Linked DNA regions of Homo sapiens. The protein of the gene in region 1 purifies or fractionates together with the protein of each later gene. This does not show direct contact. Each region holds a gene or a part of one and is shown on either strand. Other genes may lie near its edges.

Region 1 (5,571 bases):
AGCACTTTGGAAGGCCAAGGCGGGTGGATCGTCTGAGGTCAGGAGTTCAAGACCAGCTTGGCCAATGTGGCAAAACTCCACCTCTACTAAAAATACAGAAAAAAAAAATTAGCTGGGCTACTCTGGAGGCTGAGGGAGGAGAATTCTTTGAGCCTGAGAGGAGGTTGCAATGAGCCGAGATCACACCACTGCACTCCAGCCTGGGCAACAGAGCAAGACTCCATCTCAAAAAATAAAAAAAAAAAAGTCAACAACAACAAAACCAAAAGACTGGCCACCAAACAGAATCAGGAGTTCCTGGCCCTTTGGCCTCTCCTCACTGCCCAGAGGACAGAAAAGCCACTCTAAGCAACAGTGGACTCACCAGTAGGTTTTGCTCAGATACTGAAAATAGTACATGTAGCAGCCCGTGGAAGGGTCCTGTGCGTACAGAGCCTCCCGTTTCTTGGCGTCGGTGATCTCGATGAGGTCCCCGTGGTATTCCACCACAAAGTCACCCCGGGAGAACTGCTTGGTGGCAATCACACCCCTGCCTTTGCCATCGATGAGGTCAATCTGTCAGGTGATAAGAGAGGGTGTTGGTTCATAATAGCAATGGATGCCACTGTGCACAGCAGGTCTCCGGGGAGCTGGGGCTTACCCCAGTCTTTAACAGCTGTACTGAGCCATGTCATAAAATTCACTCACTTTACATGTACAGGCTGATGGGTTTTATGAAGTGTATACAGCTGTGCAACCGTCACTACAGGCCAGCTCTAGAACGTTCCCTCACTCCACAAACGTGGTTCCTTGGTGCTCATCTGCAAAGCAGTTACATCAGAGCTCGTGAGAGATCTGCTAGGTGGAGACTGCCCCATTTTGTAGATGAGGAAACTGAGGCTTAAAGAGGCACAACCACGTGTCTGAGGCCACACAGCTAGACAGTGACACAGCTCAAATCCACACACCTGGTTTCTCTGTCTAGGGGCTATGCGCTATGCCTTCCTAGGCAAACAGCAGGCCCAGTGTTCTGGGTCTCTACCTCATTCCACGATTTCTCTCCTGTGTCTCCTCACTCTATTCTACATGGAGTTGAATGGGGTTGCTGGAGGGGCCCAGGACTTAAGCCGGAATCCCCCTAGGTGGTGGGTGGAAGTGGAAGCTTTCTGAACCCGGAGCCCTAGTCTAGGCCCATCTGAACCCCACTGTAGAGAGTACTTCTCCTCTCGCCCAAACTGAGTGTGGTTGAAATACAGTAAGAGAAAAGCACATTTCTTGGGCATTGTCATTATCTAGGAAAACAGTTTAAAAATGTATTAGTTTCTCCTTTTAAAAGTTTCCCTGGGCATCAGCTACATATTGTATAATCCGATTTATATGAAGTGCCCAGAAGAGCAACTCCACTGAGACAGAAAGCAGCTGAGTGGCTGCCAGGGGCTGGGCAGGGGAGAGGTGGGGATGGTGGGCAGTGGTAAGTAATGGGTAAGGGTTTCCATTTGGGAGGATGAAAAAATTCTGAAATTAGACAGGGATAATGGTTGCATTGCATTGTGAATGTACAAAAAGCCACTGAATTGTTTAACCACAATTTCTAAGAAAAGCTTCCCCTGGATAACATTTATATACAAAGCCCATTTATGTTTCCTTCATAAGACATTTCCTTAACAACTTTTGGTATTTGGCTCTTTGACAACCTAATAGAGTCTGCCTGGTCACCATGGCCATTAGAGGGTGAAAGCCACATGGTGGCCACTCTCAGCCACGGGACCAGGGAAGGTGAGCTCTTCCAGCTTTAGCTATGATGCAGCAAGCACAGCAGCCCCTTACCTTCATTCCTTCTTCCTTCCCACTTTCAATCAATTCATCTATTCTTTTCCTTTCTTCAGACTGGGCAGAGAGAAAGAAAAACAGCATCAGTATCTTCTCCTAGGCCCATCGTGCGTAGCTTGATGGTCTTGAGCCCTGATTGCCCAGGCCATGCCCACCGGGCCACAATCGGCCTCATTTGGCATCACTGGGGATGATGGGTCCCCAGTGATGGCAAAGCCCCCAAGTATCCCTCCTTTTCTCATCACCCATCTGTTGTGGAAGATCTGTCACCTGGGGTTCAACTGGATCAGGAGGGAAACAGTGGGGACCCAAGAACAGAATGGGGCTCGTAGATATGTTCTGTTGCCCATGCAGCACGTTAAAAAATGTCCAACTTGCCCACACCTGAAAATCAGGCCTCTGACTTCACAGAAAATCAGGTACAGTGGGCCAGGCGCGGTGGCTCACGCCTGTAATCGCAACACTTCGGGAGGCCGAGGCGGGCGGATCGTAAGGTCACGAGTTCGAGACCAGCCTGGCAAATAGGTAAAACCCTGTCTCTATTAAAGATACAAAAATTAGCCAGGTGTGGTAGGAGCCTGTAGTCCCAGCTACTCGGGAGGCTGAGGCAGGAGAATCGCTTGAACCTGGGAGGTGGAGGTTGCAGTGAGCCAAGATTGTGCTACTGCACTCCAGCCTGGGCGACACAGCAAGACTCCACCTTAAAAAGAAAAAAGAAAATCGGGTACAGCAGATCAGAGGCTGTGCCCTTTGGATGGGACACACGCAGTCCACATGGCTCTGGTCTGATGGCTCATACTTCTGTTTGGGATCGCTGAGATTCACCTGTATGGAGGCCACCACGATGGATGAGAAGAGGGCCTCCAATCCCGAGGGTCAATACAGACCTGAACAGAGAACTGGGAGGGGGCACCCCTGGATCCACCTCTCCTCTAAGGCCACCCCTCCTGCACCTACCTCCATCCCTAACCCTGGGTTCTACTGCTCTGCCACTGCACAGATACTACAGAGCAAAAGGGAACCAAATGAAGACAGATCGGAAGCTCCAAACCAGTGTGGCTCACCCCAAACCAGCATGTCTTGACGGCATAGACTTTCACCAAACCAGATGGCACGTGTCAGGAGCCTGACACCAACTGCTGAGCTCAGCCCATTCCCCCTACACAGAGGCCCAAACCAGCTTGCAGCTTTTCCAGGCACTCAATCCACACCTGCAATGTGCCAGGCGCTGCAGTCTGTGCTGGGAACAATGGTGAATGAGTAACCTCAAGGACAGTCCCAAATCCTGCCACCTCCTCTCCATCTCCATTCCCACTGCGGCCCTGCAGCCCAGCCACGGCCCCGGCCCCGCTCCGGCCCCCTTGCTAGTCACCAGGCTTTCACTCTGACCCCAGGGAACACTCAGTTCTCCACAAGGTAGCCAGAGGGGTCTTTTAAAATGTAAATGAGGCCAGGGGCAGTGGCTCTCTCCTGTAATCCCAACACTTCAGGAAAGCCAGGAGGAAGGATCGCTTAAGGACAGGAGTTAGAGACCAGCCTAAGCAACAGATCCAGACCCTGTCCCTACAAAAAATAAATAAGCTAGGTGTGGTGGCGTACACCTTTGGTCCCAGCTACTCTAGAGGCTGAGGAAGGAGGAGGATTGCTGGAGCCCAGGAGGTTGAGGCTGCAGTGAGTCATGACTGTGACACTGCACTCCTGCCTGGGCAACAGAGTGAGACCCTGTCTTAAAAAAAAACAGAAAACATGACCAGGCATGGTGGCTCACGTCTGTCATCCCAGCACTTTGGGAGGCTGAGGTGGGTGGATCACTTGAGGTTACGAGTTTGAGACCAGCCTGGCCAACATGGCGAAACCCCGTCTCTACTAAAAACACAAAAATTAGCTGGGCGTGGTGGCACACACCTGTAATCCCGGCTACTCAGGAGGCTGAGGCAGGAGAATCGCTTGAACCCAGGAGGTGGAGTTTGCAGTAGGCCAAGATCGCACCACTGCACTCCAGCCTGGGAGACAGAGCAAGACTCCATCTCAAAAAGAAACAAAAAACAAAAAAAAACCTTCCCATAAACTTATTTAATAGTAATATACCTAACAAAACCTCACATATCAATATTAACCTTAAACATAAATGGACTAAAATGTTCCACTTAAAAGATATGAAAGATAAGGGTCAAGAAGGTTAAAAAAAAAAGAAAGATATACACCTGTTATCCCAGCACTTTGGGAGGCCGAGGCGGGCGGATCACGAAGTCAGGAGATCGAGACCATCCTGGCTAACATGGTGAAACCCCATCTCTACTAAAAATACAAAAAATTAGCCGGGCATGGTGGTGGGCACCTGTAGTCCCAGCTACTCGGGAGGCTGAGGCAGGAGAATGGTGTGAGCCCGGGAGGCGGAGCTTGCAGTGAGCCAAGATCGCGCCACTGCACTCCAGCCTTGGCAACAGAGCAAGACTCCATCTCAAAAAAAAAAAAAAAAAAAAAAGAAAGATATATATTGGTGGAATAGATTTAAAAAAAACAACAACAAAACTTGGTCAGGTACAGTGGCTCATGCCTGTAATCCCAGCAGTTTGGGAGGCCAAGGCAGGTGGATCACCTGAGGTCAGGAGTTCGAGACCAGCCTGGCCAACATGACGAAACCCTGTCTCTACTAAAAATACAAAAATCAGCCGGGCATAGTGGTGCACACTTGTAATCCAAGCTACTTGGGAGTCTCAGGCCAGGAGGCGGAGGTTAGTAAGCCATAATCATGCCACTGTACTCCAGCCTGGGCAACAGAGTGAGACCTTGTCTCAAAACAAAAAACAAAAAACAAAAAAAAAACTTCAACCAACAGTAATATACCAATGTTGGTTGTTACTTAGCTGTGACAAATTCACCAGAGTAACTTAAGTGAGAGAAGATGGGTAAGGAGTCTGGGGAACTCTCTGTATTATCTTTGCAACTTTTCTATAAAATTAAAATTATTGGCCAGGCGCGGTGGCTCACATCTGTAATCCTAGCACTTTGGGAGGCCAAGGTGGGCGGATCACAAGGTCAGGAGTTTGAGGCCAGCCTGACCAACATGGTGAAACTCTGTCTCTACTAAAAACACAAAAATTAGCTGGGCGTGGTGGCAAGCGCCTATAATCCCAGCTACTTGGGAGGTTGAGGCAGGAGAATTGCTTGAACCTGGGAGGTGGAGGTTGCAGTGAGCCGAGATCGCACACCTGCACTCCAGCGCGGGCTACAGAGTGAGACTCTGTCTCAAAAAAAAAAAAATTGCAAAATAAAAACATTTTAAAAACTTTTTGGCTGGGCACGGTGGCTCACGCCTGTAATCCCAGCACTTTGGGAGGCCGAGGCGGGCGGATCACAAGGTCAGGAGATCGAGACCATCCTGGCTAACACGGTGAAACCCCGTCTCTACTAAAAACACCAAAAATTAGCCGGGCGTGGTGGCAGGCGCCTGTAGTCCCAGCTACTTGGGAGGCCTTTTTAATTATTTTTTAAGATGGGGTCTCACGGCCGGGCTCAGTGGCTCACGCCTGTAATCCCAGCACTTTGGGAGGCCGAGGCAAGTGGATCATGAGGTCAGGCATTTTGAGACCAGCCTGGCCAACGCAGTGAAACCCTGTCTCTACTAAAAATACAAAATCAGCTGGGCATGGTGGTGGGCGCCTGTAATCCCAGGTACTCAGGAGACTGAGGCAGGAGAATCACTTGAACCCGGGAGGTGGAGGCTGCAGTGAGCCAAGATCGCGCCATTGCACTCCAGCC
Region 2 (5,307 bases), about 100 Mb from region 1:
CAAAAAGGAACATTTTTAAATAAAATCAAGTAAGCCAAAATATTACATCCAATATGTAAAAACATAACATCAATAACCCTTTACACTAAGAATGTCTAAACAAACTGAAGCACAGTTCCTTTTATTAGAACTTTTGTTGTTGTTTAAAGAGGCGGGGGCCAGGCACAGTGGCTCATGCCTGTAATGCCAGCACTTTGGGAGGCAGAGGTGGGAGAATCACCTGCGGTAAGGATTTCAAGCCCAGGCTGGCCAACATGGCAAAACCCCGTCCCTACTAAAAAATACAAAAATTAGCTGGGCATGGTGGCACGCACCTGTAGTCCCAGCTACGTGGGAGGCTGAGCCACAAGAACCACTTGAAGCCGGAAGCAGAGGGTGCAGTGAGCTGAGATCACACCACTGCACTTCAGCCTCAGCAAGAGAGCAAGACTCCGTAGCGAAAAATAAAGAGGTGGGGTCTCGCTGTGTCACCCAGACTGGAATGCAGTGGTCCAATCATAGCTCACTGTAGCCTGGAACTCTTGGCCTCAAGCAATCCTCCCTTCTTACCCTCCCAAGTAGTTGGGATTACAAGCATGAACCACTATATCCGTATATAAGGTTCTTATGAAAAGGTACCTGACACTATCACAGAATGTGGCTTAAGCCAGGTCACTTCAACCCTACTACTGTTTTATCACTGTTAATTCTCCAAAGTATTTTACTGTAAAAATTACTCACCTATAATACTCATTTAACAAATTTTACAGACTATTTTGTGCCATGAATGATCATGCTAGACTGGCTGTGGCAGAAACACTGGACACAACTTTATAGTGGTATCACAATGTACATTCATGTTCTCACACTGTGAGCAGCAGTTTGGTATAGTGAAAAGAATTCTGACCTAGAAAAAAAAAAATCTGGGTTGCAATTCCTGCTCTAACCTGCTTACAAATCCTTTTCAATTTTCAGATTAACAGAACCATGTGTTAGACCACGTAAACTTGATTCAATAAATAAATTATGCAATGTAAATATTTAGTTTTTTTTAAGATGAAAATAATACATTTTACTACTATAAAACATTTTAAGGCTACAGAGCCTCATAACCATTAAATTTTAAACATATTCTAATTTTAAAAAAAACAGCAAATATATTAAAACTGCAGTGTTACAAATGCAAAATGTCCTACACCAGGTCACAAGATTCTTTAATTTAAAAACAAACTACGTACACAGGAAATTTTCTAACAATTTCTTCCCTTTTATGAATACATATTCTGTAATTTTTAGAATAGAGAAATATGTTTTAACCAAAATCCCCAAAATGTCCACTTATCTCAAAAAAAAAAAATTCAGGTGACACGATTTAACTCCTTTTTTAGAAACAAAGTATCTCCTTGTAGACCTGTACCCAACAGGCTTTGTTACACAGACATACATATCAGTTTTCATATAAACTAAGAATTTAAGTTCTTTCAGAGAACTTATGCAGAGGTATTAAAGGTTTCTTTTTTTAAGTTGTGATTAAAGAGAAAACCCTCTATCAAGTATTTTTAATACATATTTTCTCATTTTTATATTTTAAGAACCCAACATCTGTTCACCATGAATTAAGAATTCAAAGAAAAAATAAAAATGCTTTAAACAACTGTGGCAAATTCTACCGTTTTAAGAGTATTACCATATTTAAAACATTTTATTAATGTGTAAAAGGGGGAAAAAAGCACTAAGGCCAAAGATTTACTGACATACTGTTTTCAATTAGTAAAACAAATCTTAAAATATTGAGAGATAATTATTGTCCATCTTTAATTTCCTTTCATGTGAAATTCAGAAGTAACATGTGTCCACTTTAGGTAACATTTATATATAAAAAGTTTATTAGAAATATAAAAAATTTTAAATTTTACACTATTTCCACCTTAAGATTCTTTTAGATAAAGCAGATGTGCCTTACGGTTCAAACACAATCTGATGTACAAAATCTTATTTAGTTCTTAGCAAAATAAATACAGAAACACAAATGATGAAATGATGGACTATTAATAACTTTAAAAACCCACCGTAAAAGTTTCCAAAAACCACCATTTGTTGTAGGTACCTAATATGGCAGTATTTACTGTAAAATACATGAAACAGCTTTCACTAAAATTTAATGTACTGGCTTATTACCAAGATCAACATTGTCATATTAAAATGCAAGTTGTGTGGTCTAAGTTTATGTTTCCAAACTTTTTGTCAACTAGACAAAGGAATCGAAAACTTTTTCTTAAAGGACCAGAGACAGGCTGAGTATCCCTTATCCGAAATGCTTGGGACCAGAAGTATTTCAGATTTTTGATTTTTTTCAGATTTTTGAGTATCTGCATATACATAATGAGACTCAGAAATGCGATCCAAGACTAAACATAAAGTTCATTTATATCTCACAAACACCTTATACACATAGACTGAAGGTAATTTTATACAACAGTTTTAATAATTTTGTGCATGAAACAAAGTCTTAATTGTTTTGACTATGACCAGTCACATGAGGTCAGGCGTGGAATTTTCCACTTGCAGCATGATGTCAGCACTCAGAAAGTTTTGAACTTTGGAGCATTTTTTATGTCAGATTTTTGGATTAGGGATTGCCAACCTGTAGTAAAAATTGGGGGCTTGCAGGACCTAAGGTCTCACCACTCAATTCTGCCACTGCAGGAGAAAGCAGGCATAGACAACATATAAATGGGTATGCTTGTGAGCTGTAGTTTGCTTGATGCTGAACAATACATAAATTCTGGACAACAGACTTATTATTTCAGGTGTCATATTTGAAGGTAGGAGCAACAATACAGATGGGCAGACATTAATAAATGAAAACCACAAATTAAAATTTTCACACTTATTACCCAGTCATAATTGGATGTTATGTGTATATATGTATACATACAAGTTATAAAGCTAGCTCATTTCAATTCCATATTCTTTTTGGTGTGTTAACAGTATCAAACCAACATCAGATAAGCAGCAAAAGGATTATGATTGATTGAGTACTCAGAAGTTAATCAAGGATCACGAAATCTGGTTTTGACATCTAAGTATTTCTACACAATGAAAAAACTTATTTACTGTGCTCTATATAGAAAATATCAGATGTATCTTTTCAGGTGTCATTTTAAAATTCAATTGAATTGTTACAATTTGAAGCTAAATGTGATTTGCTTTGTTTTATTAGAAAAAATACTCAAGCAAGGTCTACAATCATTGGTCAATTAAGAATGACTTACAAGAACATGAGGCAATAAAATAAAAATACAGGTACAAACTATGTATCTGAAACACTTCTATTTGGCAATTTTATAACAAATCAAATTTTAAAAAGAACAAAAGAGATTGCAGATTACTTCGCAGATACAGAATAAAGCAATTGATGAAGTGCTTAAGCAAAAGAAAACAACAAAAAAAGAAAACACACTGCTTTTCTTTTTAAAAATAAAATCACATTGCTATAGATCAAATGGATAATACCCTTATTAAACAACCATTCCAGAATGTCTTATAGTAGCAGTGCTTTTATTTGCACTTCACTTAATTTTATAAGACTCATTTTCATGTATATAGCTCTTTACCCCCATTGTTAACGAATAAAGTCTCTCATAATTTTTACACTTTTAAATTTTTTAAAGCAAATGAGAAATGATTTATGTATCGTGGAACCTTTCCCATTTTGGAACCAAAGGTTTTAATTCTATATTTTTGTCTAATATTTCTTTAAAAAATTTAGTGTAAAAACTGCTGGTTTTTATATCACTGTAGTAAAGTGAAAACTCCTCAACCAGGAGTATTTTCTGCAGTTTCACTGCATATAACCACATACTTTACAATGTCCTTCCAACAGTAAGGAAATAACTGATTTCTTGATCACTGTCAGAAATGAGTGCCATAATTCTATTATGGGTATAGGTCCTCCCTCAAAGACTTTCTGGAAGGATGTTCAATGTGTTTTGTTCTTAGAGATATTAACAGTAGTACATAGTCCCTTAAGTCTGTGAAAGACATTTATTGTTAAAGAAGGTGCTTTTATTAACAATTCCTCTGGCAGCACTAGTGAAGTACAATATCCTTCAATATTATTTCTACCATAATATATACATTTAACTTTCATGCCTCTAGAAAACATCTACAGTACATTTCAAAATATAAAAATATATTACAAATCTGCTGAATTATTTACAAGCAATGTTCTATTATCTCTATGCAACATTTGTTTAATACAATACTAACAAGTTACACATATTTCCATTTCTGTAAGTTAAAAAAAATCGATATGGCTTCTTGCTTACCAAGCAAGAAAGTGATTTTATTTTCCTTTTCAAGACCAACTTTGGTGCATAAAAGATTCAGTTTGAAGATACTTGTAAAAAAAATACAATTTTTCTTACATTAAGAAAAAACAACTCAAAAACCAAATGATTTCCTCAGAAAAAAAATTAGAGTCATATAGGTTAAATGAAAATATGAAGATTATTCAAATAATTTGAAAGGTTTTTCAAAAACCGTTAACAGATTAGTTATATAGGTAAATATTAACATACTGTACTCCATGAGAAAGCCCTAGTCCTGAAAAGGGAGCCACCAGACATACTGCAACACTCTTTAACAGTAATTTTCAGCCCTAATTCGATAGACGAATTTTTAGTTGATTGCAAACGTCGTTCACTGTTTGCTTAAATACAAATTGAACACTTTTCTTATCAGAGTTCTGCAAAAGAACACAAATGGCAACCAATCACATCTATTTATCATAATTGAAAGGTAAATTATCTCTTGATAATTTTCATTGTCTAAATATTTCCTAATATGACTTCAAATCAATAAACACTGTCAAGACAAATATCCTTACAGTGCTTTTGGTATTTGTAAGGGCACATGTTGTAATTGTTTTTCTTTCCAATATAAACTACTGAAATCACTAAAGGGAAGAAAAGAAAAAAAAAAGCAGCTTAAAGCAGCAAGCATGCAAAGCCTTTAAGAAGCTGTTCTACTAAGTTGCCAAAAGAGTGTTTGCTCAGTCTCCCACAGTACCATTCCATGAAAATGTGGATATACAGTAATATATTAATATATTCCACCGAAGAGTCTACTTCATTCACAGAATGTTTACACTAAGCATAAATATTATCCTAAATACTGGATTTAAAAAAAAAAAAAAAAAAAAGAAGGGGTTGACTCTAATGTGCAACTTTCCCTAAACCCATTGTCAGTGACTAAGACTGCAGGTGTCCCCGCTTGTTTGCTTTTTATGTATTTATTTATTTTTTACCTCTTCAACCTCTTCTG

Evidence for each region.
Region 2: the proteins of KMT5A (region 1) and AEBP2 purify together in Homo sapiens (co-purification; one study listed by BioGRID). This does not show direct contact.

Annotation. Positions count from the first base shown.
Region 1 is NC_000012.12:123,399,868-123,405,438, reverse strand, and holds part of KMT5A (N-lysine methyltransferase KMT5A), read right to left. Parts: intron 1,867-5,571; coding exon 1,807-1,866; intron 801-1,806; exon of another isoform or gene 688-800; intron 556-687; coding exon 365-555; intron 1-364. UniProt on the Homo sapiens protein: Protein-lysine N-methyltransferase that monomethylates both histones and non-histone proteins. Specifically monomethylates 'Lys-20' of histone H4 (H4K20me1).
Region 2 is NC_000012.12:19,518,097-19,523,403, reverse strand, and holds the end of AEBP2 (zinc finger protein AEBP2), read right to left. Parts: coding exon 5,287-5,307; 3' UTR 4,730-5,286; coding exon of another isoform or gene 4,684-4,729; 3' UTR 1,177-4,683; downstream 1-1,176. UniProt on the Homo sapiens protein: Acts as an accessory subunit for the core Polycomb repressive complex 2 (PRC2), which mediates histone H3K27 (H3K27me3) trimethylation on chromatin leading to transcriptional repression of the affected target gene.